Regions from separate parts of the Homo sapiens genome. Here regions 2, 3 and 4 are each linked to region 1. Evidence: fine-mapped expression QTL. A gene starts in region 1. Each other region holds a variant in brackets. All regions are shown on one strand. Distances are from middle to middle.

What was found. PIP is the estimated chance that this variant, and not a neighbour inherited with it, causes the effect.
Region 2: its variant is fine-mapped to the expression of ATP13A3 in whole blood (TOPMed, PIP above 0.99).
Region 3: its variant is fine-mapped to the expression of ATP13A3 in esophagus muscle (GTEx, PIP 0.91).
Region 4: its variant is fine-mapped to the expression of ATP13A3 in whole blood (INTERVAL, PIP above 0.99).

The regions. Positions count from the first base shown.
Region 1 is chr3:194,483,146-194,490,601 of GRCh38, forward strand. ATP13A3 (ATPase 13A3) reads right to left here and starts at 3,857. Exons shown (of 34, transcript NM_001367549.1): 1 at 3,421-3,857; 2 at 2,649-2,690. ATP13A3-DT (ATP13A3 divergent transcript) reads left to right here and starts at 3,995. Exons shown (of 2, transcript NR_033929.1): 1 at 3,995-4,027; 2 at 4,311-5,400. RefSeq lists silencers at 3,097-3,156, 3,247-3,296, 3,327-3,986 and enhancers at 4,657-4,876, 7,010-7,129.
Region 2 is chr3:194,524,288-194,531,743 of GRCh38, forward strand. No RefSeq gene overlaps it. Among named protein-coding and RNA genes, the nearest start is that of ATP13A3-DT, 41 kb to the left of the region's middle. The variant CAAAG/C (reference allele first, on the strand shown) is at 3,165.
Region 3 is chr3:194,533,949-194,541,404 of GRCh38, forward strand. No RefSeq gene overlaps it. Among named protein-coding and RNA genes, the nearest start is that of TMEM44-AS1, 47 kb to the right of the region's middle. RefSeq lists enhancers at 3,052-3,346, 3,072-3,366 and a silencer at 3,052-3,346. The variant T/C (reference allele first, on the strand shown) is at 4,551.
Region 4 is chr3:194,439,049-194,446,504 of GRCh38, forward strand. ATP13A3 (ATPase 13A3) reads right to left here. Exons shown (of 34, transcript NM_001367549.1): 15 at 5,677-5,738; 16 at 2,263-2,413. Among named protein-coding and RNA genes, the nearest start is that of GP5, 44 kb to the left of the region's middle. RefSeq lists a silencer at 278-478. The variant A/G (reference allele first, on the strand shown) is at 4,105.

The DNA of each region.
Region 1 (7,456 bases):
TGATGGCACACACCCGTTGTCCCAACTACCCTTGTTGCTGAGGCAGGAAGGTCGCCTGAGCCCAGGAACTCAAGGCTGCAGTGAGCCATGATCGTGCCACTACACTCTAGCCTGAGTGAGAGAGCGAGACTCTTTCTCTGGGGGGAAAAAAAAAGAAAAAAGGACGGGGTGCAGTGATAAATGCCTGTAACCCTAACACTTTGGGAGGCCAAGGCAGGCAGACTGCTTCAGTTCAGGAGTTTGAGACCAGCCTGGGCAACACGGTGAAAACCCACCTCTACAAAAAAAAAAAAAACTAGCTGGGTGTGATGGTGCACACCTGTGGTCCCAGCTACTCTGGAAGCTGAGGTGGGAGGACTGCTTGAGCCCAGAAGGTCAAGGCTGCAGTGAGCCATGACAGAGCCACTGCACTCCAGCCTGGGAGACAGAGCAAGACCCTATCTCAAAAAAACTCAACATGGTTTTGACGACTACAGATTTACTCTCTCCATAGGCCAATTAGCTTCATTTTCACAAAAACTATGTTCCAAAACCAAGGCTAAATCCCATCAGCTACCTCTTGGATCCAGATGAGATATGGCATATTCAGAATACATTCAGAGGTAACACCAAGAAGAAATTTAATTTCTAATTTCTTCTGGCTACTCCAGGCACACTGCCTATCGAGCAGCCCTGTTCTGCAAGAAGCAGTATTAAAAAATGTTTTTAAAACTTTAAAAAATAAGAAATGTGATTCTAAGGAGGGAGAGAGAAGGGAGAAAAGGATGAGTACAACATATCTAAGAGTTAAACTGAGCTATATTTGAATGGATGATAAATGGAATAGGAGTTGGCAGCTTATCACCTATCAAAGAAAACAGTCAAAACAGTTCACAGTTGTGTGCTAAAAGAAGGTGATCTAGTGTGTGACACCTATTAAGATGACATATCTGATTTATCACCAGAATCTGAGGTTCAGAGATGTTATGTTGCCTAGTCACATACAACTAACCTTATAAACCCAGAGACAGAAACCTCTGTGTTAAGCACATTAACACAGAGCTAGGTTTCTGTCTGTCTTCAAAGTCGCTTATACTGTAAGCTCCTTAACTTCTTTAATTTTTTTTTTAACAAAGAAGAATATTGTTACCTGAAAGTGTTGAGGATTAGTTGAGACCATATGTAAAGAAAGGAGCACTTTTCCTGGCACATAATGGTTTCTTTCCTTCTTCCATTCCATATATTGAATCAAACTATGCTTGTATAACGTGGTGGTTTTGTAACTACTGTGAATATGAGGTTTTAGAATATGAATATGCTTTATTCCTAAGATAAATAGTAATCTTAGGACATAGGCACTATATCATATTACTATGGATATACAACCTACTCAATGGTCAAACTCAGTGAGAATAAGCAGTGATGGGGACGCCCTATGGAACTTTATCTTTATTCTGTCTTTTTTCTCAGTCTCAGTGATGTTGGAAATAAGAACTTTATACTTGTGAATGACAACAAAGTGGTTTATAATCTCGAAAATCTTGAAGACAGAAATAGGATTTCAAAATGAGCTCGATAATGTGGTTTATCCAAAGCGGATTCTGTGTGTTGTATATTTGGTGACCTAAACTAACTATGTAAGTATCAACCGCCAAGCTCGGTGGCTAGCGCCTGTAATACCAGCACTTTGGGAGGCCTAGGCAGGAAGATCACCTGAAGTCAGTAGTTCACGACCAGCCTGGCCAACGTGGTGAAACCCTGTCTCTACTAAAAATACAAAAAATTAGCTGGGCGTGGTGGCACACACCTGAAATCCCAGCTACTTAGGAGGCTGCGACAGGAGAATCGCTGAAACCCAGGAGGCAGAAGTTACAGTGAGCCGAGTTCACACCACTGCACTCCAGCCTGGGCAACAGAGCAAGATGCCATCTCAAAAAAAAAAAAAAAAATTTAAAGCAACCAAATAGTGTCACTTTTCCTACCCAATCCCCTGACCAAAGCCAGGCATTGTTGTTCTAACAAGGCTCAAAATCTCAATTATTTCACTCTCTGCCTGATCTAATGGTAGGATAATGCAAATCAAAGATACCAGCAAAAGTTATGTTCTACAACAATCATTAATAATAGGTTTACTACTTCGAACAACTTCCAAGCACTGATTTGCCTTAAAGGGGTTGCAAACCAGGATGAGATGCCCACACACATTGATTTTTGGCAACTGTAGTCTATTAAGCAAAGCAACAAACCTCTAGAGAAAATAATGTCACATATATTCCAGTGAAACAAAATTAATACATGTACCTTGGTAAAGAGGCTGAGCTCTAACCAAAGATAGAGCACTGTTCATTACGTACTCACCCTTCAAAGGAATCAAATCGAAACACTTTCATTTTAACAACGATACTTTTTAAAGGCTTTATTTTGCAATAATCTTTCAAGTCCCTGCATTTCTTAGATTCCTTAAATTCTAACTTCCTGCCTCATAGATCTAAAGTAGCCATGACATACCCAGGTATGTTCTACTCATTTAGTTAGAATCGTATAGAGGAACACAAGTCTGTTTCTAGGTGTACGACTCCACACCCATTCATTTTGCACTAATATAACCACTAAATATAGCTCTAAGACACTGATGATTAAAAGCGGCTAATTATGTGAGTGATTCATACCTCCTATGTCCAAACACCAAGATTCAGGGATGTCTGTCAGATCTATGGGAAGAGGAAACAATAAACACCTGTCACAAAGCTTCTTCCACACCGGGAAGCCCCCAGCTGAGTTCCTGCCAATCCCAACCCGATTCCCTCCCCCTTCATCCCTACCCCTCACCTCCCCAAAAAAGCCAGAGGTCATACTTCCACCAGAACCTGACTCTGTGAAGGGAATGGAGAGACAGAAAGGCCATAGCGAGAGTGGCCACGAGAGCACTGCTAGGGCAAAGGGCCCTGGGTTTTTCTAGTCCTCACTGCCACAGAGTCCGAGTGGGAGGCCTCAGGCAAGTCAGAAGTCACTTTTCCTCCACGGGACTCACTCCTTTTATCTGTGAAATGCGGAGATGGCAAGCAGCTCCATACTCCACGGCTGAGGACGAGCTAGGGTCCCGCACAGACTCATCGAGGGCCCTGCCAGCACCCCTACGCCTCTGCCCACAGGACCTCCACCTCCCACAGGACTTTCCGAAAGCTCTGACTACCAACCACCAAGCGCCCGGCCCCCACGCTCGCCCCCGGCAGGCGGCGCGTCCCCCCCAGGCCTTCGCACCCACCGCGTGGGCTCCTGCCCTGGCCTCACCTGCCCCCGACACTCCCCGTCCCCGCGATGCCCAACTCCGGCCCGAGAAGGCTGGCCGCGACCTCGCCCGGTACCCGCCGCCCCGACACCACCATTCGCCTCCTCGACCTCCCCCGGCGCCGCTGCCCACCCGCCCCTCGCCCCGCTCACCGGGGCCGCTCACTGGCCGCCGCCGCGCCGCCTCCTCCGCGGCCTCCCTCGCGGCCGGACCAGCCCCAGGGACCGCGGGGGACCCGGCCGCCGCTGTCGCCGCCGCCGCCTCGCCTCAGCCCAGCCCCATCGCCCTCGGCCGGCGCCGCGCGCTGCGGCTCAGGGTGAGGGAAGGAGGCGCCGCGGCGGGGCCGGGCCGGCCCTGGGACGTCCGCGCTCTCCTCCTCCTCCGCGCCCGCGGCGGCGGCGTGCAGCCGGCAGGGCGAGAACAAGGGAGGGCGGCGGGAGGTGGGCAGGGGAGGGGGGCGGTCTGCACTCCGAAACGGCCCCCCCGCCGCCAGCGACGTAGAGAACCCCCCTCCCCTCCGCGGCGGCGCCCGATCACGCTGCGGGGAGAGCCGGCAGGCAGGCGGGGGAGCGCGCGCGGGCTCAGGACTCCCGCGCCGGATGTGAGGTCACGTGGTGGCTTCATCCCCGCGCGGAGGGCGGAGGGGCGCGGGCGACGTCAGGAGGCGGGGAAGGGGCGGGGAGGGGCGGGGCGATTTATAGGCCCCGCCCACCCATCGCCTTTGCCACCCTCGAACGGGCAAAAGAAAGAAAGAGGCAGGTAAGGGGAGGCGAGGCCGTCCAAAAACGCTGGGTGTCAGCCCGGGGTGGCTAATGGAGGGCGGCTTTTCTGGTGGGATGAAATGGAACGGCAAATCCCACTTCATCCCCTTTGGGCTATGACAACATCATAGTCCAATCTCCCATTTTATGAACAGGGAAACTGAGGCTCAGTGACTAGACAGACGTTGCCCAGAGTCATGGTCATGGAGGAAGCTTGTGCTAGAATGGTGGAGAGGAAACCAGAGCCCAGCTCCTAATGCAAGGCTCTTTCATTCCTTTAGCCACCCTCGCCCCCGCCAAAACAAACAGACAAAAAACTGTCATTCTCATATGACCACGGACTCTGCGCCCCGGCCGCAGGCGGAGGACAGGGAGGAGCGCACACGAGAAAGCTCCCACGCGCCCGCGCCTCGCCTCCGACGGGAAGGCGCCTCTTCCGACCGTCCTGGATGCAAATTAAATACTTCCCTCCGCAGAAGACTTATCTCGGGGTAGGGCCGCAGCCGGATTTCCAAATCGCGGGTTTGATTTTCGCTGCGTCCTCTCCGCGACGCGCGCAGGGAGCGCGCCCGGCCACCTGCAGCCTCTGGCTGCGGCCATCTTTCCGCCTGGGGCCACCTGGCCTGCGCCCTTTGTGCCCGGCCCGCTCCGTGACTGTTCTTCTTGCCGCTACTTACAGAACTCAGCCGCCTTAGCGTCTTAGAGAAGAGGACGGCATGCATGCGGACCCCGTCCACCACACCTGGAGAGCAGGGAGCCCTTAGTCCCTGGACACTTACCAGGGCCGCCACCCCTGGTCCACGCACGTGATGACATCTCACCAGGGGCAGCACACCGCCCGAGTCCGCGACACTGATAACACCTCCTGCGGGCAGGAGGGCGCCACAGCCACCCCTGGTCCCCTAGATTGTGTGAGGCTAGCATTTCTGCCCGCCTCTTGGCGTGGACAGCACGCTGGACCGAGATGGAACCACAGCTTTCTCTTCCCAATCCCTGGCCTCACCGTTTTGTTTCATACCTCACCGTTTGTTTCAAACCTCGTGGTGTTGAAATGATTAAATGAGATTAAGGGGTGTGTGGTAGTGTTGGGCAAACCACAAGAAAACGGTCTGGGTGGGGTCTGGCCCTAAAATCTTCCTCCCCCACCTCCCAGGCTTCCTTGCCTTGCTGCTTCCTCTCAGCCTTTAAACAGGTTGGCCTCTCCAAGTCCTAAAAACAAAATTATCAAGCCAACCTCCTCCTGAAGTGCTCCCTCCAACTAGCTTCCAAGTGTTTCATGCGGACCTCAAACAATGGTCTTCCCTGGCTGCCTCTGCTTCCTCATTTCTCAACACTTGGCATTCTGGCTTCTCCTCCCCAACTCTAACCCTTCACCTTGCTCAGGCAAGAGCAACTCATGACTTTCATTTTGCCAAACCTTGCAGGCATTCCTCAGGCCTTATCTCTCTGGTTCTTTCTGCTACATTTGACACCTTGGGATGACTCTCACCTTCTGGAATCTCTCTACTACCTTGGTTTCAGAAGAGTGAACCCTCTGGATTATCACATGAAGGTAAGTAAAGCCTCTGCCTCCTTGGTAACATCTACTTGTGAATCTGCACCTTAAATTCAGGATTCCACTCTAAGCCAACAACTTTGCTCACTTCACTCATTCTTCTGGGATTGCCTGCATCCTCATGGATGCAGCTCCCAAATTAGCAATTTCCAACCCAGACCCCTTCCACAAAATTTAGAACCAAATATCCAATTGCCTGCCAGGCAGCTCTAGCTAGATATCACAGACACCCCAAACTGGACATTTCCAAAACTGAACTCATTCTCTGCTTTCATAGCTGCCCCTCCCTCAGCTGTTGGCACCACCATCTCCACAGTCATCAGAATTAGAAAGTTGGGAATGAGTGAGTCATTCTTAATTCAGCCCTCTGCCTTACCCAATCACCAAGTCCTATCTATTTCACCTCCTTAATAAGCCTCAAATTCCTATGGTGGGCTGGGCGCAGTGGCTCATGCCTGTAATCCCAGCACTTTGGGAGGCCGAGGCTGGTGGATCACACGAGGTCAGGAGTTCAAGACCAGCCTGACAACATGGTGAAACCTCATCTCTACTAAAAATACAAAATTAGCTGGACGTGGTGGCACATGCCTGTAATCCCAGCTACTTGGGAGGCTGAGGCAGGAGAATCGCTTGAACCTGGGAGATGGAGGTTGCAGTGGGCTGAGATTGCGCCATTGCACTCCACTCTGGCCAAGAAGAGCAAAACTCCATCTAAAAAAAAAAATTCCTACGGTGGTTCCCACTGGCATCCATCCTTTCCAGCCTGAATTGTTAGACAAATTCAGCCTTCAGAGTGAACTACAATGCACTCCATTTAAAATCCTAAGAGTTTCCCTAGGCTTCTGGCTGCAGTGTATACCTCCAAGCTACCCAGCATGAACCTGTCAACGCGTTCGGGCTTTTAAAAGATCACAAAGAGCCCCAGAATTCGAGGTGCAGCCAAAGTAAGGCAACATACAGCCAGTCAAGGGAAAGCTATAGGAAAAAGAGAAAAGCAGTTGGATATTCCAAAAACTTTTCTGTTACAGATGTTTTGAGAATGGTGAAAAAAGGAATTTGGACACTGGCTTTAGAGGAAGTGCTGAGTCACCAGGAAAGGCTTGAGCATGTTTATGGGTTGAGGGAAAAGAAGGTGCAAGAAAAAAGGAGAAACCCAAGATAGGCGAGAGAAAGGGAGTGGAACAGTCTGGAGAAGTCCTGGAAGACTTACTGGTTCTCAAGTCATGATGATTCTGGGTCCAAGCCCACTGCTTCCCCCCTCTGATCCTACTCACTGTAAGCACCAACCCTGATTGCAGCTGCATGGAGGTAACAGTCATACCAGTAAGGTCTGACGTCACTTCTCAGAAAGGCTATTTTGCATCTTCTTCATCCTCAAAACCCCCATCTTTGCATGCCCTTCCCTCTCACTGTCCCCTTACTTCCTATTTCACTAAGAAAACATACACCATCAAGAGGAAAAATCCTCATCTTCCCACCCGCAAATCTGCGCATCATCCTACATCGGCCCCAGGATCTATTTTCCCACTCCAGAGAGGCAAAGCCTCCTCCTAACAGAGCTAGCTCTCCACAAAATGACCACTGTTAGGCCAACTCCAGGGGCTAGGCCTCCCCAAAATATTACTGTTGCCAAATCCGGAGGACACTTTGCAGGCCTTATCTTTCTAGTTCTCTCAGCAGCATGCATCTCCTATCCTTGAGACACTTTGCTGTTAGTTTTGATAACATACTCTATTTTGGAATTCCTCCTCCCTGTTTCTCTTTGTCTACTCCATCTCAGCCTCCGCAGGTGCTTCCTCTGTCCTTCTCTAAATGTTGCTGTTCCCCAAGGCTCAACCCAGGATCCATTCCTGTGTCTACACAAGGTTTGTT
Region 2 (7,456 bases), 41 kb after region 1:
CCTTTTATTGGTGTGATTTGAACCAGGCACAGTGGCTCAGGCCTGTAATCCCAGCACTTTGGGAGGCCAAGGCGGGAGGATCACTCGAGTCCAGGAGTTGGCGACCAGTCTGGGCGACATAGCAAGACCCTGCCTCTGTTTTAAAAACTTTTTTTTTTTTTGAGACAGAGTCTTGCTCTGTCACCCAGGCTGGAGTGACGTGGCGCAAACTCGGCTCACTGCAAGCTCCACCTCCTGGGTTCAAGCGATTCTCCTATCTCAGCCTCCCGAGTATCTGGAATTACAGGTGCATGCGACCATGCCCGGCTGATTTTTGTATTTTTAGTAGAGACGGGGTTTCACCACGTTGGCCAGGCTGGTCTCAAACTCCTGACCTCAGGTGATCTGCCAGCCTTGGCCTCCCAAAGCGCTGGGATTACAGGCATGAGCCACCGCACCCAGCCTTGAAAAAACAATTTTTTTAAGTAATTAAATATTAGTGTGATTTTTTTTCTGTTCTTCCTCCACTGTTCCCCAAGCTATAAACTTCCCTACAGGGCAAGAGTCTTCAAGATCTTTCTTTCTACCCAGGTGCCCAGAACAGTGTCTGGCACATTGTAGGCGCTCAAAAAAATGCTTACTGCCTCGGAAACCTGACCAGAAAAGGCCAACTGTATGTGGGGTGGGGAAGGGAATGAGAAGGGTTAACCTTTCTCCTCCACCTTCAGCTCTGTGTCAGATGATATACAAGTGGAGACTGAATCCCGTAGATTTATAGTGTGTTTTATGATGATATAAACAGAGCTTTTTTGTTATTATTAATCATCCCATTTATGCATTTCAAAAATCCACAAAAATTCATCATTAAAATTTGTTTCATACCTTCTCATCCTTTCTCTCAATAACGTAGCAGTGTTAGAATTTTGTCTCAATTCGTCATGGCCTTCAGGTAGCACTTGTCTGCTGGACACAGAGGGACAGGAATTCTCAACCTGAAGACTGCAAGTTTCAGCCACCTATGAAGTTTCAGCATCCTGATGTTGCAAAATGGTACATATACATGTGTACCTATATACATTTTTTTTTGAGACAGAGTCTTGCTCTGCTACCCAGGCTGGAGTGCAGTGGCATGATCTCAGCTCACTGCAACCTCCACCTCCCAGGTTCAAGCGATTCTCCTATGTCAGCCTCCTGAGTAGATGGGATTACAGGTGTGTGCCACCACACCCGGCTAATTTTTTATATTTTTGGCAGAGATGGGGTTTCACCACGTTGGCAGGCTGGTCTCAAACTCCTGACCTCAAGTGATCTGCCTGCCTTGGCCTCCCAAAGTGTTGGGATTACAGGCATGAGCCACCACCCCTGGCCCATATATGCATTTTTGGATAGGGTGATGGTCTGTGATTTTTCAGTCAGATGCTCTCATGGGTTCCTGACCTAACAAAGGAGAATGACTACATTCAATAGAAGAGGTGCAAAATAATGAGAAACACTAAGTGTTCACTGAGAACTCTTTCTTTTCTTTTTCTTTTTCTTTTTTTTTTTTTTTTTTTGAGACGGAATCTCACTCTGTCACCCAGGCTGGAGTGCAGTGGCGCGATCTCAGCTCACCACAACCTCCGCCTCCCAGGTTCAAACAATTCTCCTGCCTCAGCCTCCCGAGTAGCTGGGATTACAGGCATGCACCACCACGCCTGGCTAACTTTTGTTTTTTTAGTAGAGATGGAGTTTCTCCATGTTGGTCAGGCCAGTCTGAAACTCCTGACCTCAGGTGATCCACCTGCCTCGGCCTCCCAAAGTGCTGGGATTATAGGCGTGAACCACTGTGCCTGGCCTAGTGTACCCATTCTTTAAGGCCCCACTCCTGTCCCTTCTCCCTACCACTGTCCCTGCCTCTTACCCAACCAGTTGTCTTTCTCTCTTGTAAACTCCAACATTTCACATTTATCTCTTGTTATATGTGGCTAGTAACCATTGATCACCTTCCTTATGTTTGCTCATGTTTTACCTTCCCAGCTAGTCTGTATGCTTCTCGAAGGCTAGGCTCATATTGCACATCATTGTATCTTCTTTGCCCTCTGGAAGGCTAGGATCATATTGCGCATCATTGTATCTTCTTTGCCCTCTGGAAGGCTAGGATCATATTGCGCATCATTGTATCTTCTTTGCCCCCGGAGCATGGCCTGCCTAGAGGGGATATTTGGTCATTTCTTTTTCATTGATTGGTTTTATAACCACCATAATGTTTGAACTCCTTAATGTGGCCTACATGGATTGGTCTTTGCCACCCTATTTGGCCTCATTTGTGTCTCCTCCCCCTTTACATTTTATACCTAGCCATCCTCAATACCAGCCAGTTCCTTAGAAATTCCATGGGCCAAGCACAGTGGCTCATCACACCTGTAATCCCAGCACTTTGGGAGGCCGAAGCGGGCGGATCACCTGAGGTCAGTAGTTCCAGACCAGCCTGACCAACACGGTGAAACCCCATCTCTACTAAAATACAAAAATTAGCCAGTTGTGGTGGTGCACGCCTGTAATCCCAGCTTCTCGGGAGGCTGAGGCAGGAGAATCGCTTGAACCCAGGAGGTGGGGGTTGCAGTGAGCCCAGATCGCCCTACTGCACTCTAGCTTGGGTGACAGGGCAGTGACCCTGTCTCAAAAAAAAAAAAAAAGAAAGAAAGAAAGGAAAGAAAGAAGGAAGGAAGGAAGGAAGGAAGAAAGAAAGAAAAAAAGAAAGAAAGAGAAAGAAAGAAAGAGAAAGAAAGAAAAGAAGAAAGAAAGAAAGAAAGAAAGAAAGAAAGAAAGAAAGAAAGAAAGAAAGAAAGAAAGAAAGAAAGAAAGAAAAATTGCAGCCATGACACCTCACACAGCTTCCTCTGCCGGAACACTCATCTCCTCTTCTGTCTGGTTGACTCTTCTCAACATTTGCATCTCAATCTGGGAATTACTTCCTAACGAGAAGTCTTCCCCTGGACTTCATCAGAAAGTACAAATTAGTAAGATTGCGCCAGCAAAATGCGTAGTGTGTGAGAAAGCACTTAGCAAGAGGAAATGAGAAACATTCACGTCCACTTACTCATGAGCTTGCTCCAGCTTCTTCTTCTCCTGTCCCCTAGTTCCCTCTGGATGTCAGCCATCTGAAATTACTCACAGGACATCTGAATGCACTTTGTTTTATCATA[CAAAG/C]TGTGCCTTTGTACACACTTTTCTTCCGTTTTTTTTCTTCCTTTTTTTTTTTTTTTTGGAGGCCAAGTGCACTGACGCCATTTCGGCTCATTGCAACCCCTGCCTCCTGGGTTCAAGCTATTCTCCTGCCTCAGCCTCCCAAGTAGCTGGGACTACAGGTGTGTACCACCATGCCTGACTAATTTTTGTATTTTTAGTAGAGATGGGGTTTCACCATGTTGGCCAGGCTGGTCTCGAACCCTGACCTCAAGTGATCCACCCACCTCGGCCTCTCAAAGTTCTGGGATTACAGGTGTGAGCCATTATGCCCAGCCTGTACACACTAAACATTTTTCATTTTTTCATTCTTCCTAGGATTCCATTTAATCCATGCCCTTCCTTCCTTCCTCCTTCCCTTCCCTCCCTTCCCCTCCCCTCCCCTCCCCTTCTCTTCCTTTCTTCCTTCTTTCTTTTCTCTTTCTTTCTCTTTCTTTCTTTCTTTTTCTTTCTTTCTTCTGTTCTTTCCTTCTTTTGTTCTTTTCTTCCTTCCTTCTTTCCTTCCTTGCTTCCATTCTTTCCCTCTCCCCCCGCCTTCCTTCCCTCTCTCTCCACACCCCTACCCCCGCCCTTCTCTTTCTTTTGAGAGTCTTACTCTATTGCCCAGGATGGAGTGCAATGGTGCCATCACAGCTCACTGCAACCTCTGCCTCCCGGGTTCAAGTGATCTTCGTGCCTCAGCCACCTGAGTAGCTGTGGGATTACAAGTATCTGCAATCAGGTCTGGCTAATTTTTGTATTTTTAGTAGATATGGGGTTTCACCGTGTTGGCCAGGCTGGTCTTCAACTCCTGGCCTCAAGTGATCCACCCACCTCGGTCTCCCAAAGTGCTGGGATTAAAGGCATGAGCCACCGCGTGGCCTAATCCATGCCCTTTCTTCACCTAATTAACTCCTACTCATTTTTCAATGCCCAGCCAAGGGGTTTGTATAATGGTGCAATTTTTGTTTGTTTGTTTGTTTTATGAGACGGTCTTGCTCTGTCACCCAGGCTGGAGTGCAGTGGTACGATTTTGGCTCACTGCAACCTCTGCCTCCCCGGGCTCAAGCAATTCTCCTGCCTCCCTCCCGAGCAGCTGGAATTACAAGTGCACACCACCACACGCTGCTAATTTTTTTGTATTTTTAGTAGAGATAGGATTCCACCATGTTGGCCAGGCTGATCTCGAACTCCTGACCTCAAGTGATCTGCCTGCCTTGGCCTCCCAAAGTACTGGGATTACAGGCATGAGCCACTGCGCTCGGCCAAATGGGGAAAATTGTAATAATTTCTACCTCCGAGGGTTGTTGTGGGAATGAAATGAATTAATGTCTATACAGTTCTTTGACTTCTTCCTGGCATATAGTAAGTGCTAAATAATTTTTAGCTATTATCAGCAACAACATCATCTTCTCTTTCATCATTATTATCAGTATATGTAATATACAAGTCTCTTGTCATTTTTCATGCTATATAGTAATTGCTTTTCATGTCTGTCTCTCCACCATCATATGTGCTCCTTTTTGATCGAATGATCCTCAAATAACGAGGTCATTCTACAGGCCCTAACAAAGCATCAACAGTCAAGGTTTGGAGCTACAGAAATCCTACAGAGAGCTGTGAAAAGAAAAACGTCAACTGGATGAAAAGGCTGTGGGAAAAGGAACAAGTAAATAAGGTTAGAAAGAATGCCTTAGAAATAGCCACAGGACTCATTCACTATTGATCACAGTGCAAGTTGACACAACCTTATTTTGTCAGGCATTTTGGTGCTTCACACGAAAATGTTATTTATTTATTTATTTATTTATTTATTTATTGGAGACAGAGTCTTGCTTTGTCACCCAGGCTGGAGTGCAGTGGCGCAATCTTGGTCACTGCAGCCTCTGCCTCCCAGGTTCAAGCGATTCTCCTGTCTCAGCCTCCTGCATAGCTGGGATTACAGGCACATGCCACCATGCCCAGCTAATTTTTGTATTTTTTTAGTAGCGATGGGGTTTCACCATCTTGGCCAGGCTGGTCTCCAACATCTGACCTCAGGTGATCTGCCCGCCTCAGCCTCCCAGAGTGCTGGGAATACAGGCGTGAGCCACCACACCCGGCCAAAAATTTTAATTACATATATCCTTAAACCGAGAAATATCACTTTTAGAAGTCTATTCAATAAAAACAATTTCTCTGGTATACAAAGATACATGAAAAGGTTAACCATCACATTACTTGTAAGAATAAAAAATTTTGAGAGGCTGAGGTGGGTGGATCACCTGAGGTCAGGAGTTTGAAACCAACCTGGCCAACATGGTGAAACCGCGTCTCTACTAAAAATACAAAAATTAGGTGGGCATGGTGGCGCACACCTGTAATCTCAGCCACTCGGGAGGCTAAGACAGAAGAATCACTTGAACCTGTGAGGCAGAGGTTGCGGTGAGCCAAGATCATGTCACTGCACTCTAGGTTGGGTGACAGAGCGAGACTCCGTCTCAAAAAAAATAAATAAATTTAAAAAAGAATAAAAAATTGGAAACAGCAGAAATGCTCATCAAGGAAAGATTAATTAAATTAATTGTGGGATTGTGCTGCATCCATACAATGAAAGACTATGGAACTATTAAAAAGGAGGTAAAGCTCTCTGTCTGGAAGCCAGAAGTCCACAACATATAGTTAAATGAAAAAGCAAGTCGCAAAATAGTCTAAATTTATTAGCCCAATTTTGGGGTCAACTTTATTGAGGTACAATTTAAATGCAATAAAATTCACCAATGTTAAGTGCACAATAAATGAGTTTTAACAAATATACCATCATATAGTCACTACCACAATCATGAAATTGATAGGATATTTTCATTACCCCCAAAAAATTACCTTGAAACATTTTTCAGTCATTCTACACCCCTACCCTCTGCCTCCTGGCAACCACTAATCTGCTTTTTATAACTAAGATTTTGGACTTTTTTTTAGCACTTCACATAAATGGAATTATATAGTAGATAGTCTTGAGTCTGACTCCTTTCACATAGCATGAAGCTTTTGAGATTCATTCGTGTTTTACATATCAGTGGTTCATTCTTTATTATTGCTGAGTAGCATTTCACTGTAAGGTTTTACTACATTTTATATATTCATTTACCAGTTCTTGGGCATTTGGATTGATTCCAGTTTTTAATGAGTATGAATAAAACCACTATAAACATTTGTGTACAGATTTATTTAATTTAACTTTTTATTTTGAAATAATTATAGATTCACATTATAAGAAATAATACAGAGATTGTTTCCTTACTTATGGAAGAAAAGAAAAAAAGAGAGATCCCTTGATCCAGCTTCCCCCAGTGGTAACATCTTGTAAAGTATAGTAACATATCACAACCAGGCTGTTGACATTGATGAAGTCAAGACACAGAGCAGTTCCATCATCACTGGGACCCCTTGTGTTGCCCTTTTATAGCCACACTCACCTCTTTCCCCGCCCCCAGCTCCTGGCAACTATTAGTCTCTTCTCCATAATTTTGTCATTTCAAGAGTGTAATATAGATAAATGTAAGCATACAATATACAATATACAATTTGTAAAGATTGGCTATTTTCACTCAGCCTAATTCCCTAGGGATTCATTACATATGAGATTCATTACATATACACACACACACACACACACACACACACACCAATAGCTTGCTCCTGTTTATTGCTGAGTAGTGTTCCGTCCTGTGCATATACCATGACTTGGTTTTTGGCTATTATGAATAAAGTCGCTATGAACAATTGGTGTGAATGTAAGTTTTCTTTTCTCTGAGATAAATGCCCAGGAGAGCAACTGTGGGTTGTATGGTAGTTTCATGCAGTTTTATTTATTTATTTATTTATTTATTTATTTATTTATTGAGACGGATTCTCCCTCTGTCACCCAAGCTGGAGTGCAGTGGCGAGATCTCGGCTCACTGCAACCTCCGCCTCCTGGGTTCAGGCAATTCTCCTACCTCAGCCTCCCGAGTAGATGGGACTACAGGCGCGCGCCACCACGCCTGGCTAATTTTTTTGTACTTTTAGTAGAGACAGGGTTTCATTGTGTTAGCCGGGATGGTCTCGATCTCCTGACCTCGTGATCCACCCGCTTCAGCCTCCCAAAGTGCTGGGATTACAGGTGTGAGCCATCACGCCCAGCCCGCACGGTTTTATTTTTAAAAACTGCTAAACCTTTTCCCAGAGTGGTTGTATCATTTCACATTCCTACCAGCAATTTTTGTGGCCCAGTTTCTCTACATCTTTGCCAGCA
Region 3 (7,456 bases), 51 kb after region 1:
AAACAATGTGCATACAATACTTCCATAGAAAGGAAAAAATGATAAGGATATAAGGAAAAATGATCTGCTTAAGCAGAAAAAAATAATTATACATAATAGCTGAAATACAACATTAGGGAAATTTCCCAGGAAATATAGCAAAAAGATAAAGGGATATAAAATAGTAGACAAAAGGTTAGGAAGTTAAGAGTACTAGTTCAGGGGATCTTATATCTGAATACCGGTGTTTCCAGAAAGAAAAAAGAGAAAAGAAGGGACAAAGCAATCAATGTCATAATTCAACAATAGAATGAACTGTGATATTTAAGAGCCAATAAGTAGCCAGCATCATTTTAGGGAGGAAGAGAAGATTTCATTGCCTCTAGAGATGAAAAAATTGGCTATATACAAAGTTTAGGAAGCAAAATGGATTTGGACTTCGCATCAGCAACACTAGAAGCCAAAGCACAATGAAGCAGTGCCTTTAAAATTCTGAGAAATGTAACTTGCAATCTGGAATTCTATACCCAGCCATACTATCAATTGAGTATGAGAGCAGAAAAAAATATGTTCAAGTATGTAAGATTTCAAAAACTTTTATCTATCATGCACTCCTTCTCTATAAGCTACCGGAGAAGATACTCCACGCAAAGACCAAGTAAATCCAGGAGGAGAATCTAAAATAGGAGAGAAGCAAGGAGATTCCCTGGGAGGATAGTAAGGGGAAATGCCATGATAATCGCTGTGTACAACATGTGGAGAACAACCATTTCCATGTGGAAAACTGTGACTCAAGAAACAGGTTGAGAACTGTCATCACCCAAAAATCCTCACTGATATCATACCTTGTTCAAACTTGAGGACGATTTATCCATATTTGTCACAGTTTCATTACATATTATGGAAATTCCCACTCACCTCTCTACACTCTGCTGGTAGAATCGGCTGAGCGTATTCATTTCATAAAACAGCCCGTTTCTGAAGTGTTGTGCTTTAGGCCTACTCTTGAGAGCTGAATGTAGGCTAATGAGCTTAAAAGCAGAAAATACAAAGCATCCTTCCCCCTCTGACCCTATTTCTACAGGGTCTTCAGTGCCTGGCCCATCCTGCAGATCTGCCAGATGCCCAGACACAGGTGAACCCTCATGGTTAGAGACTTATCCACCTGAAACTAATGAAACGGAAGCCCTTTATTCATATATGCCCTCCCCAAGGCCCTGTACCTAATTTAGTATTTGTAATTTTGAACTTATAATCTTACAAAAGGGTCCTCCAAATTATATAATCTTCAGACCCCACAAATCCTAGATCTGCGCCTGTGTACGATTGTTTTTTTCTTTTTTTTTGGCTTTCTCCCCTCCAATTAGGAAGATAGATGCATGTTTTGTTCTGGTTTGTTTTCTTGTTTTGTTTCGTTTTTGAGACGGAGTTCCGCTCTTGTTGCTCAAGCTGGAGTGCAATGGCCAATCTCTGCTCACCCCAACCTCCGCCTCCTGGGTTCAAGCAATTCTCTTGCCTCAGCCTCCCGAGTAGCTGGGATTACAGACACACGCCACCACAGCTGGCTAATTTTTTGTATTTTTAGTAGAAACGGGGTTTCACCATGTTAGCCAGGCTGGTCTCAAACTCCTGACCTCAGGTGATCCATCTGCCTCGGCCTCTCAAAGGCTTACAGGCGTGAGCCACTGTGCCCAGCCTTGTTTTTGTTTTGAAATGGGGTCTCACTATGTTGCCCAGACTGGACCAGAACTCCTGGGTTCAAGTGATCCTCCCATTTCAGCCTCCTGAGTAGCTAGGACTACAGGCACATGCCGCCATGCCTTGCTCTTTGATCATGATTTTGTCCTCTGACTTCTCCAGAAGAGGCTTTTAAAGACTCAGGAAGGTTGAAATTACATTATAACCCAGCAACTCTATTCAGCTTGTTTTCCATGACCCAGCAACTCTATTCAGCTTATTTTCCCAGGAAATCTCATGTAATACTGGCAACAGTGCTCTTTCCTTACACAGCTAGCTTTGTGCTAGCCACTCAGTTATTCAAATCCAACCAGTAGATTGTTTAGGGATATGTCATATAGAGGGCAAAACTATAAAGCAAACAGTAACGACTGACATTAAAGGTAGTACCTGGGGAGGATGTGGTGCCCAGGGAAGCAGAGATTGCAGGGAGGCACACAGCTGAGCCTCAAGGTACTAGTGGGTGATAGGTGTTTGTCATTATTATTATTATTATTTTGAGACAGAGTCTCGCTCTGTTGGCCAGGCTGGAGTGCAGTGGCACGATCTCGGCTCACTGCAACCTCCATCTCCCAGGCTCAAGCAATTCTCCTACCTCAGCCTCCCGAGTAGCTGGGATTACAGGAGTGAGCCACCACACCCGGCTGATTTTTGTATTTTTAGTAGAGATGGGGTTTCACCATGTTGGCCAGGCTGGTCTCAAACTCCTGACCTCAGGTAATCTGCCTGCCTTGGCCTCCCAAAATCCTGGGATTACAGGCGTGAGCCACTGTGCCTGGCCTATTATTTTATTATTTTGAAAGAGGGTCTTGTTCTGTTGCCCAGGCTGGAGTGCAGTGGCGTGATCACAACTCACTGCTGCCTCTTGAGCTCTTCCCGCCTTAGCCTCCTGAGTAGCTGGGACTACAGGTGTGTGCCACTGCACTCTGCTAGTTTTATTTTATGGTTTTGTTTGTTAGTTTGGTTTTGTTGTTGTTGTTATTGTTGTTGTTGTTGTGTGTGTGTGTGTGTGTGTGTGTGTGTGTGTGTAGAGCTGGTGGTCTCATTAAGGTGCCCAGGCTGGTCTCAAACTCCTGATTTTAAGCCATCTTTCCACCTCAGCCTCCCAAAGTGCTGAGATGACAGGTGTGAGCCACTGCACCCGGCCTCGTTATTTAATCTTTAGATTGTACACATACTTTTCTCTAAATATGATACATTTTATAATTTTAAAGCCTGGAGAGGTGCCTGAAGGCTACTGTTTCCTCTCTTGGTTCAGGGCTGCAGCCAGAGAATATGTGCAGAGTCACTGTCAACAGCAAGTTAAGTATAAAAGGAAATAATGATTTTCTAACATTCTAATAAACCTGTGCTAGTTAGAGAGGATAGTGGTTACTGCAATAGAGTCCACTGTTTGCACTGGGAAGGGGTAAAGTCCAGCTGCCTTTTTCAGGCCCTCCTGGTAGAACAGCATTTTTCTGGCCCAGAGAGCATTCAGAATTTGGTCCTTACTTCCACATGTCCAGAAACTTGATTTTAGCCACTCCACTGGGACTTCTCATGCTTAGAGGGAATGCCTATGAATGAGCAGCCACTGTGAGCTCCTTGAGGGCTGAGATCATGCTTTATCCATCTCTAAATTCCCATTGCCTAGCAAAGAACCTACCTACAACAACAGAGTCCAGGGACCTTTCTGGCAACTTGCATACTCGTGTGTTCCAGACAGAACATGCATGCCTGCTCTGGAGGCACAGCTCCCTTCCTGGGGCCTGGTGGCCTGACCCTGAGGCTTAGCCCAGAGGTTAATCGCCCTTCCACCAAGGATACAGCACACCTACCTTCCTACCAGCCTCCTCATGCTGTCATTTACCCAGGCCAGGACTGGCTGCCAGCCCTGGCACAGTGCCATGCTCATAAAAAGGGCTCAGGAAATGGAAGAAGAAATATAGAAGCCCAAGTCAGAAGGCAGACTTTCTTTTCCCCCACATGGGCTACTTCGTGGTCTTTGCCTTATCTTCACATATATGATCGATCCCCCAGCCCAGCCGATAGACAGGCTTAGATATGAAGCTTCTTAGAAATGCTTTTCCGAGTAAGGTTCTGCTCTGCTTGTAGAAAGTGATGGAGAAAGTGAATGCCACCCAGCCAAATACACTCATTAGTTTACCCAGCAAAGAGTGCAGCAGTCAGAATTTCAAACACTGGAGGAAGCGGTGAGGACAAAATCCAAAGCCCTTGCCAGTCACAGGGGAGTAATTTGACCAGTTATGACCATGCTCTTCCTGCTCACAAATATATGCTGACTGCCTTCGGGACAAGCAGGTGGTTGCTTTGCCTGGGGAGCCACCAAAGCTGTGTAAGGCCTGGGCCACAGCCAGAAATAGTTTAGATTCCAAAAGCTCAGAGTCAAGGCTGCGAGAGCACTTGTTTAGTCCATCAAGAAGCAGATCAAGAAGAGAAGTGGCTTAGAAAGACAGTGACGGGGTCGGGTGTGGTGGCTCACGCCTGTAATCCCAGCACTCTGGGAGGCTGTGGCAGGCAGATCACTTAAGGTCAGGATTCCGAGACCAGCCTGGCTAGTATGGTGAAACCCTGTCTCTACTAGAGATACAAAAATTGGCCGGGCGCGGTAGCTCACACCTGTAATCCCCGCACTTTGGGAGGCCGAGGCGGGCGGATCACCTGAGGTCAGGAGTTCGAGACTAGCCTGACCAACGTAGAGAAACCTTGTCTCTACTAAAAATACAAAATTAGCCAGGCGTGCTGGTGCATGCCTGTAATCCCAGCTACTCGGGAGGCTGAAGCAGGAGAATCGCTTGAACCTGGGAGGCGGAGGCTGCGGTGAGTCGAGATCA[T/C]GCCATTGCACTCCAGCCTGGGTGACAAGACTGAAACTCCGTCTCAACAACAACAACAGCAAAAAAGAGAGATACAAAAATTAGCCTGGTGTGGTGGCACACACCTGTAGTCCCAGCTAATTGGGAGGCTGAGGCAGGAGAATCCTTGAACCTGGGAGGTGGAGGTTGCAGTCAGTCAAGATTGTGCCACTGCACTCCAGCCTGGGTGACAGAGTGAGACTGTCTCAAAAAAAAAAAAAAAAGAATGAAAGACAGTGATGGAACCAAGCCGAGGATGAAGGACTCCCAACTGCCACATGTGTATTATTGTGTCTGTTACGCTCTGCATCTCTGGTCATTGCAGATCCCATGGTCAAGGGCCTTCGTCCTGCCATAGCAAGGTTTGAGTCTTCTAATTGGCATTCACATGAGGTTTATGTCTATGTAACTGCAAAAAAAACTTATTAGCTCAACTGGCCTGTTGAGTGGATAAATAGTGATTACTCTTTTCTGATTTTATCTTTGTAATGTGACAAGTTTGTGGGGTAGAAATTCTAATTTGCCATCTATTTTGCATTTATTTACATAATGAGCTCCCAAGCCCCTGAGGATATACCATGAATTAATTAGTGGAGTCTGTAATAGCCAATTCCAGTTCTGTGGAGTATTAGGACACCCACAATAAAGAGAAATGCATTATTATTATTATTTTTAGCAATTGATATACCCTAGAGGTACTAAAGCCTTTTCAGAACAAGGTGTGGTGTATATAAATGACTATGTTATCCATGTCCCGATTTAGGAAAGGAGATATTGCAGAAATTGAAGTCTGTTACCTTAAATGCCAAGGGGATTCGGCATTTCTGTCCTCCCCCTGGCTTATTCTGAAATCGAGGTGAGATGGGAAGAAGGGTAGTGACTGAGGCAGAAGGACAACCTGATTTCTAATCATTCATTCACTGGAACAACATTGCTTGAGTCAATCTATGTGTAAGGCTTTGTGTGAGGGGGTGATAGATCATTTAATAGGACCCAGGAGATCATGCTTTGAAAAACACCTGATATCTTGCATGTAGTGAAGAAAAGACACCTGCAAAAGTACCCGCTGACCCTGGGGTGGAGGTGTCCTCACCCAAAGGCCTCAACTGCTGACTTCTAGTCAAAGCTTCAACACTCACTTGCTGTGTGACTTTGAACAAATCACTTCCCCTCTCTGATCCTCAGTATCCTAGCTGTGAAATTAGAGGCAAGGAAGAACTCGCAGAAGGAATGTGGCATGTAGAAAGACCCAGAAATCCCTCTCTATGTTTTAGTCTATGGCTGTCCTCTCCATAAGGACAGTTTCAAACCTTCTCCATTCTGCTCAGATCTCCAAATCTGCACCCGATTCTCCTCTCTCTTAGCAAATGATCTGATTCCCAACTTCATAAAGAAAATAGAAGTTTCAGACTGGGTGCGGTAACTCATGCCTGTAATCCCAGCACTTTGGGAAGCCAAGGCAGGTGGATCACCTGACGTCAGGAGTTCAAGACCAGCCTGGCCAACATGGTGAAACCCCGTCTCTCCTAAAAATAAAAAATTAGCTGGGCATGGTGGCAGGCACCTGCAATCCCAGCTACTCGGAAGGCTGAGGCTAGAGAATTGCTTGAACTTGGGAGGCAGAGGTTGCAATGAGCCGAGATCGCAGCGGTGCACTCCAGCTTGGGCAACAGAGTGAGACTCCGTCTCAAAAAAAAAAGAAAGAAAGAAAATAGAAGTCTGTTGGTGTCTGGCCAGGGTGGCTCATGCCTGCAATCCCAGCACTTTGGGAGGCCAAGATAGGAGGATCACTTGAGGCCAGGAGTTTGAGACCAGCCAGGTCAACATAGCAAGACCCTATCCCTACAAAAGTAAAAAATAGAAATCTCCTGTGAGAATTGCCTCACCCTCCTGTGCCACATCTGCACCTCGTGTTGACGGAGGGAGCATCCTTTCTCATCGATGTTTAAACTACACACATTCCAGCCATCCCCATCGTAACACAAAACAAACTGATGTCTTTGTTGCTCCCAAGTTCCCCTCTGGTTGCTCGTGTATCTTTTGCTCCCTTTCCAAATGTCTTGAATGAGTTGTTCACACTGCTTGTCTTCATTCCTGACTTTCAGTCATTTCTCAGCCACCTCCAGCCAGCTCCCTCCACTGGCTCCTCCACTCCCACTCTGCCAGAGCTGGATTTGTTAAGTTGGCCAGGGACCTCTGCTGCGTGAGGAACACTGCTCGCTCTGACTTCTCAGCAAAACACAAAGCGCAGCCAGCCACTTCCTCCTTCCTGAAACACTCTCTTATTGGCTTTGAGATGCCAAACTCTCTGATTCCTCTCTGACCACTTTTCAGTTTCTTTTGCCTATTTCTTTAGCTGACTATTAAATTTGGGGGATCATAAGACCCAGTCCTGGGCCTAATTCTCTTCTCACTCTGCACGTTATCCTTAAGCAATGTCACTCATTTCCAGGTTTAAATCTGGAATCGAATCCCTTGCTTACCGGTTCCTAAGTATTTGTGATATTATTTGAGAGGGAGAAAGAGAAAGAGAGGTTTTCATCTATGGTTCTTGGTTCGTAACTCCCATAACCCTTGTTGCAGTATTTTGCTGTAACATAGGGGCATTTTAGGCCTCAGAAGCAGGCCTCAGAAAACAAAATCTCTCTGACTTTTTTTTTTTTTTTTTTTTTGAGACAGGGTCTCACTCTGTTCTCCAGGCTGGAGTGCAGTGGCATAATCATGGCTCACTGCCCCCTTGCCCTCCCCAGGCTCAGCGGTAGCCTCCTGAGTAGCTGGGACTACAGGTGTGTGCCACCACGCCTGGCTAATATTTTTTTGTATTTTCTGCAGAGAGGCAGTTTTGTTGAGTTGCCCAGGCTGGTCTCGAACCCCTCGTCTCAAGTGGT
Region 4 (7,456 bases), 44 kb before region 1:
CCATTTTTAAATAGAACATTATGGCCATTTTCAATAATTAAAAAAAATGTATGTCCAAGGAACAAATGAGCACTACTGGATCACTAACATAAGTAAAAGAAAATATGAACAAAGATGGTGAGTTAGATACCTAGCAACCCATGGGAGAAGGGTTGCTTCATTCAGGGTTAGAAGCAGAATAAAGAAATAGAAACTGATCTCACTTCACTCTTACAACTTGTTGGGTTTAGAGACTAGCTCTGCAAAAGATAAAAGGTTCTTGTAGTCCCCAGAATTTTCAGGCTCATCCAGTGATTCCTTTCTGCTACCAAGAAAGGATTCAAAAGTACATAGAGCTCAGATATGGTTAGCAGAACCGCTGGGTCAAGAACAGGCTAAAGCACAAAGATATGAGTTTAGAGTTTCTCAGCTTGAATACTTCCAGTTAAGCTAATACTTTAAAGAACCTTTTTTGGTGAAAAACATTCGAAGAAAAACGTATATTAAACACACACTATAATTAGTGGGATCAATAAATGAGAAAACAATAGGGAACTGTGAAAAATTAGCCAATTTTGTACAATTCTAAGACACCTTTTTTCGTATCTTAACATCTCTAAAACTGGGATGCATCTTGTATCATATGACATCTGCATCTTGTATCATATGACACCAATCACATCAAGTCACAGTTGTGACTGGCTATGTGAAACCATTTCACGGATAAGTAAGCTCTGGTGGGATCAAGCATCAAAGCAACTCAGGGCCAATGAAATATGCCATTATACACATTTTCTTAATTTCTTTGAAGATACACCAACACTGAACACTAAATCTACTGAAAATCTATTCAGTTGGAGAAAAGCTTAGAGAAGAACGATAAATCAGCCCATTTTTGTTATTCTCTCTATAAATGAAGTGAGGCCTCCTTTTCAGAATTAAACTTCAAGAGTGTTTACCATGGACTTTCAGTAGTTGGCAGATGGAGCACTTATCCAGTCACCTCCTCCCTCTCTCCCTTTCAAAATGTGGGTAGGGAGGGAGGGAGGTGGGGAGGCAGGGAAGAGGGAAGGGAGGATCCTGTAAATGTAAACAGAAAACAAACCTGAAGGAAGGGATTTCAAATATGGAAACAAAGGGCAAACTGAAACCTATGGATGGATACAAACGGGAACGAAACAGTAGCCCAGAACAAACACAAGATACCAGGTGAGGCAGGAACACTTATCAGCCAGAGTAGCTGAGCTAAAGAAAGCCAAACAAAAAACCAGGGAGTCCTCCTCCAGAGACATAAACTGAATGTCTGACAGAGCAAAGGCTGCTGACATGAGGGTGAGGATTCCAGAGTACAGAGCTCCACATGTGCAAGCATGGTGAGAATGGGTGAGGAAAGCAACGGAGAGGCTAACTCTGAAACTATTCCTTTGAAACTTTAAGAACCCCTGTCGATAAGACCCCACCAGACACAGAGCAAGCACCATCCCCCATCCCCCAACAAGCCTTCACGATCAGAAACACTAACATACATATGGGCAAGGGTAAAATTTGAAGTAGCTCACTGCAGCTATGCAGAATTACCAAATCAGATCTTCATTTTTAGAGTAAAAAAGTGCCATCCAGATGTACAATGAAAACCAAGAGCATGAAGGAGAGACACCAGCCATGGGGTGGGGGCCAGAGGAGACCATAACCTCAAAGAAAATAAATAATTCAGAAGCCAGAAGGGAACTCTAAAATGAACTGACTTTGTATTTATAAAAGAAGAACTGAATGCTGTAAAATGATAACAACCAGAGAACGTAAGCAGGCACTTAGAAATTAAAAGTCCCAATGGCAAAAATAGAAGGAAGTTATAAACAAACAAAAACATGTGCATGTATGTGGACACAGTAAACAAAAGACAGGTAAAAAAGAGCAATGAAGACAAACGACTTTATACACCTTTGCCTGTGGCCAAGAAATTGTGTCAGTTGAGATCATCTTACTGGCTCTGCTCTACCCTCCCCAAGTTGCTGACCCCTGGTTTACCTTAAACACAAAGCAGGGGCCTGAGCTGGTCAGCCTCTATTAAAGGTGTACTAAATGGGTTAACTAAAAGTTACTTTTGCATGATTTTTAAAATATTTCTCCAGTTGATGTAGCTTTAGAAATTACATAGCTCCTTTTAGGGTACAAGATAGACTGTCATTAAAACAAAAAGCAGAAATAATCCTTGTATGAGGTAATTTAATTTTTAACTATTATTTTCCTAAAGTTATTTGTATTTTAAAATATTTGACTTACCCATCCAATAGCCTCAAACATTTTCAGATCAAGTGGATCACCAGAGAGCACTCCTTCAATTTTTGTAAGTGAATGACAAGTAGCCATACAAGCAACAAACTGGGATTTTACCAACATCTCATTGCACACATTTTCTTCTGGTGAAAGAAATCTAAGCAGAAGACACACTGAATTAGTTTCATAAATTCTAAGATTCAAGATAATATTCTAACAGGGCTTTTCTGGTTTTGTAATTAAAAAAAAAATCTTTTAAATCCCAATCTGAGCTCCTAAGAAAGAGAAACTGTCAAGTGTCAGAAATACAGGGAAAAGAAAACCAGAGGGGTGTGAACTTGAGCTGATGCTATGGCTGCTGGGGGGATGAAGGGAGGGGGCCATCTCAGTAAACTAAGAACTTGGGATTTAATACCCACAAAAGGACAGGAAACAAAGTCTGGCCCCATGCAAAGTGGGTAGCTGGTACTGAAAGGATCCCTCTGACTCAGGAAAGCCAGTACTCTTGAAGAGCTACACGCCCTTGGGAAAAGGGCAGATGAGAAAAAATTCACCCACAGACCTAAAGGCATTAATTATGAATAAGCTTGTCTTTTTCCTCACCCAAAGTCCAAGAAAATAGCTAATATCTGCATAATATTTACTATGCACCAGGCATTATTCTAAGAACTTTAAATTTATTGGCCCATTATCCTCACACCATAGAAAAGGTGTTTTATTACCCCCATTATAGATGAGAAAACTGAAGCAGGGTGGTTAAGTGACTTGTCCCAGGTTACACCGTCCATAAGTAGCAGAGCAAGGATTGAAACACAGGAGGTCAGTTAAAGCCTGTATGACACCGTTGATTACCACTGGGGCTCTTAGCCAAGCAAAGTCAGAACTTCTCCAGAGGGGAGCTCAAAGAAAATTCTGTTAAGAATGAGTCCATAATTTAAAGATGCGCTAGCAAACAATTCACCAAGAGTGTCAACAGACATAACAAAGACAGAATTAGAATCCTATAAATTTGGCCAGGGGCAGTGGCTGATGCCTGTCATCCCGGCATTTTGGGAGGCTGAGGCAGGAGGATCATTTGAGGCCAGGAGTTCAAAACCAGCCTGGGAAATATAGCGAGACACCCATACCAATTCCTATGTTTAAAATAAAAAAATAAAGAATCCCGTAAATTTAAGATAACAGAATGGCAAATCTGAAAGAATGCAAAAAGGGCATTTTAAAATTAGACATACAAAGAGTAAGACACTGTAGATGCGAGAGTAGGGGTGGGAGCAGACTTGGAAAGAACCAAGTAAACCATGTGTTGTCCAACACATGGTTAGGATTCCCAGAAGGAGAGAAAACAAAACACAAGGAAAAGGCCATAATGGAAGTAAAAAAGGCCTGAAAATTTTCCAGAATTTATGAAAAACATGAAAGCATGAAATCAAGAAGCATCATGAATCCTGTACACACAAATAAAAAGATCACAGTGAATCTGCAGAAATTAAGGGTGAAGAAATATTCTTCAAGCAACCAGAGAAAAAAAAGATTACTAAAAAGACTAAGATTTATCAGTACCAATTAACAAAAGGTATTAAGAGAAATGAAATAACAGCTTCATAGTATTGAGAGAACACAAATGTCAAACCTAGAAATCTGTATAGTTACACTACCACCCAAGTGACAGTGGGCTGCTCTGCCTATGAAGGAACCATTCTTTATTCCTTTACTTTCTTAAATTTGCTTTCACTTAAAAAAAAAAAAAAGAGTGACAGTGAAACAAAGCAAATGAATGTAGTTACAGAAGATGGCAATTTACACAAGATGCAATGGTTAAGGCATTAGTACACCTAGGTAAATCTAAGC[A/G]TGCAGACTGTATAAGACCAAAATAATAATCAGAAAATATTATGCAACAAATACATATAGGAAGGGAGGAGAATAACCAAAAGTATCTTACAGTCCATAGGTTTGTTTTGGGGGGCAGGGGAGTGGTTAAAAGGCAGTATTAACATCCATGAACTTTAAGTATAAATATTGATAATGTAAGAACAAGCAGTATAAGATTGGGATGCATAAAGTGAGAAAATGAGAGAAAAAATGAGAATGTGAAAATGTGTATGTAAATTGGGGGAGCAATGGTAGAAATAATTTCTAATATATCTGAATAAATGTGCACATCATGGCACAGAAAGACTGAAAAGTAAACAAGTGGCAAAACACACACTAGGCAAACATCAGGCAAAAGAAAGCTGGTATAGAGCTATATAATTATAAGACAAAACAGAATTTAAGGCAACATGCATTACTAGAGATAAGAAAGGTCACAACGTGACATACTATTTTCCAAGACACAACAACTCTTGAAATTACATTGGCCAAACAATACTGTCTCTCAAGCTATATACACCAAAATTTAGCAGACTTTTGACAGGGGGAGGGGGGAAGACACAAACAAAACTACAGGAGTAAAACTTCTGAGCTTCAAAAAGCAACAGAAACAAAAGTAAAGAGATGAGCCAGAGACTAATAGGATAATTTTCAATACACAATATTGAAAAAGATTCCTATCCAGAAAATAAAAAAGACCTCTAACAAATAAGATAGACTTCCCAACAGAAAAATGAGGATATAAACACACAATACACAGAAGAATGCTAAATGACCCTCCCTCCAAAATGTGAAAAGATGCTCAATTTTATAAGAAATGAGAAGAATGTAAAAACCACAATGTAATACTCATATCCATCCATCTGGCAAAAATTACAAGTCTGACAATATTAAGTTTGGCAAGAATGTGGAGTAAAAAGATCTTTACCCACTGAGAGAGAAAGCATAAAGCTGAAGCCGTGCCCATGCTACGGCCCAGCCTTTCCATTTACAGGGATCTAGCTTACTGAAACTCAGCCACATGCCTACAAGGACTTATGTGTAAGAACTTTAATTCCAGCACTATTTGCAACAGTGCAGAGAAAAAAGAAGAAAAAACAGAATTGTCCCTTAGTAGAAGAACAGACAAGGTTTAATCATTCAATGGAATAAGACAGAGCAGTTAAAATTAATAAACTAGATCTGCACATATCAACATGGATAAATCTTGAAAACAAAGTTTGGAGAGGGGAAAAAAGCAGCAAAACATATGTACAGTATATCATTCATGGATACTTATTTATAGATTTATACTTAGAAAAAATATAAAATATGCAAAAATAATTTCAGAATGGCAGTAGGAATTGGGGAAGGGATACAGTGGGACTTTGGCAACTTCTATAATATTTTAATATTCTAAAGGAAGCGATCTGAAGCAAATATGGCAACATGTCCACGGTTTAATCCTGGTATAGGTACACAGTTGTCTATTACTTCCTTTATGTTTGAATGTTGCACATGTTAAAATATTAAAAATAAACTAATAAACTATCAAGTCTAACTAATATTTACCGTGCATTTTCCACTCGTTGAATCCCCCAAAGATCTAAACCATCTTCAGTTAGAGTTCCAGTCTAAAAAACAAAAAAGCACACATGCACAAAGTATGGATGATGCCTCAAAAAAAAACCCAAAAATAAAAATAAAAAGCAACCACACAGCATTAGAAACTATGCTACATATAACATAATGGAGTTCTACAGAGTTAAAAAAAGAAACAGGCAAGATCCCTGACAGAGAATGGCTTCCAGGACATATGGTTAAAGTGGGAGAGGGGGTGCAAACAATGATCACAAATCTTCTGCGTAAGGGCAGAGAGGGGTATATATTTACGTGCTTATACTATCAAAAAAAAAATCAATGGAAGGATGCACCAGTTAACCTATCTTATCAATCAATAAAGGATGCCTATAAAGCAAAAAAGGAAGGATTACTGTATAAGGAGGGCCAAGAGGAACAGGTTAAAGTACATCAGGAGGAAGCAACTGGCCAAATCCACAAGGTAAATGACCTGGTTTCTTCAACAAAATAACTGGAGATAAGGGGTAAGTAAAGGCAATTGTTACATGTTAATTGTAAGCAATGTAATCCCTATTTGGATTCTGACTGAAAAATCAACTAGTAAAAATTAGAGATATGAGGAAATCTCAACTGGATATTAGAAAAACTAAAGAATTGCTAATTCTGTTAAATGTGATAGTGATATTTTAAATATCCTCTAGACACATACTAAGGTAGTTATGAGTGAAATAATGTCTGATGCTGTCCCCTTCAAAATGAGCAGATAGATAAAATAAGACTGACAATGTGTTGATAACTGATAAAGCTGGGTAATGAGTAAATGAGTGTTTATTATACACACATCTTTTCTCCACTTTTGTCTTAAAACTTTTAGGAAAGTTTCCAAAAAAGACAAGCATAAGTGAAATTTTTTGAACTGATAAATATGAAATAATTGTAGCAGTATGTGACATATTTTTTTCTAACAGAACATGTTTCCCATTTTTTTCTGTAATAATGAAATGCACAAAAATCAAATTTGTATCACATCAGTTACCCAGAAAAGTTTGATAGAAGGTTTTCTGGTCAAAGTTTAATTCTCAGAAAACTTTAAAGAAAATTCCAGCTCAGGAAAGGAGAAACCTTTCTAAGAGGCAAGATATACTTCACACAGGTACATAATTTGTCATTTTCACATAAAATCAGTGACCTTCATAATTCTTAAACATATTCAATAAAATCATACAGCAAACACTAAACATACACACTTACAAGCAATAAAATCATAATAAATATATATGTATGGAGCCTATTGTGTTAAATAAGAATTACTGTCTAAAAAATTAAAGGTCACGTAATCTTTACTGCTACTACTATTAATACTACTAGGCCTAATTCTGGAGTTAACTGAAGCTTTGAGCAAATAAGCAATATCCAAAGTATTAAAAATTGAGAAAATAAGAAATATAGCATGTCCTCAAATACGATTGTTTTGTCCGTCTTTTTTTATAACACGATGGGTGCCAGTGGTGGGGAGAGCTGAGGCCCAGCCGCGACCACTATCTACATGGAGTTTGCATGTTCTCTCCCTGTCTGCATGGGTTTCACTCCAGGTACTTCAGTTTCCTCCCACATCAAAGCTACGCAAGTTAAGTGAACCAGCACATTTAAATGGTCCCAGTCTGCGCGAGTGTGAGTACACCCTGCGATACGATGGCATCCTGTCTAGGGCTGGTTCCTGCCTCGTTCCGCCAGTTGCTGAGATACGCTCCCACTACCCAGGAGCCTGAAA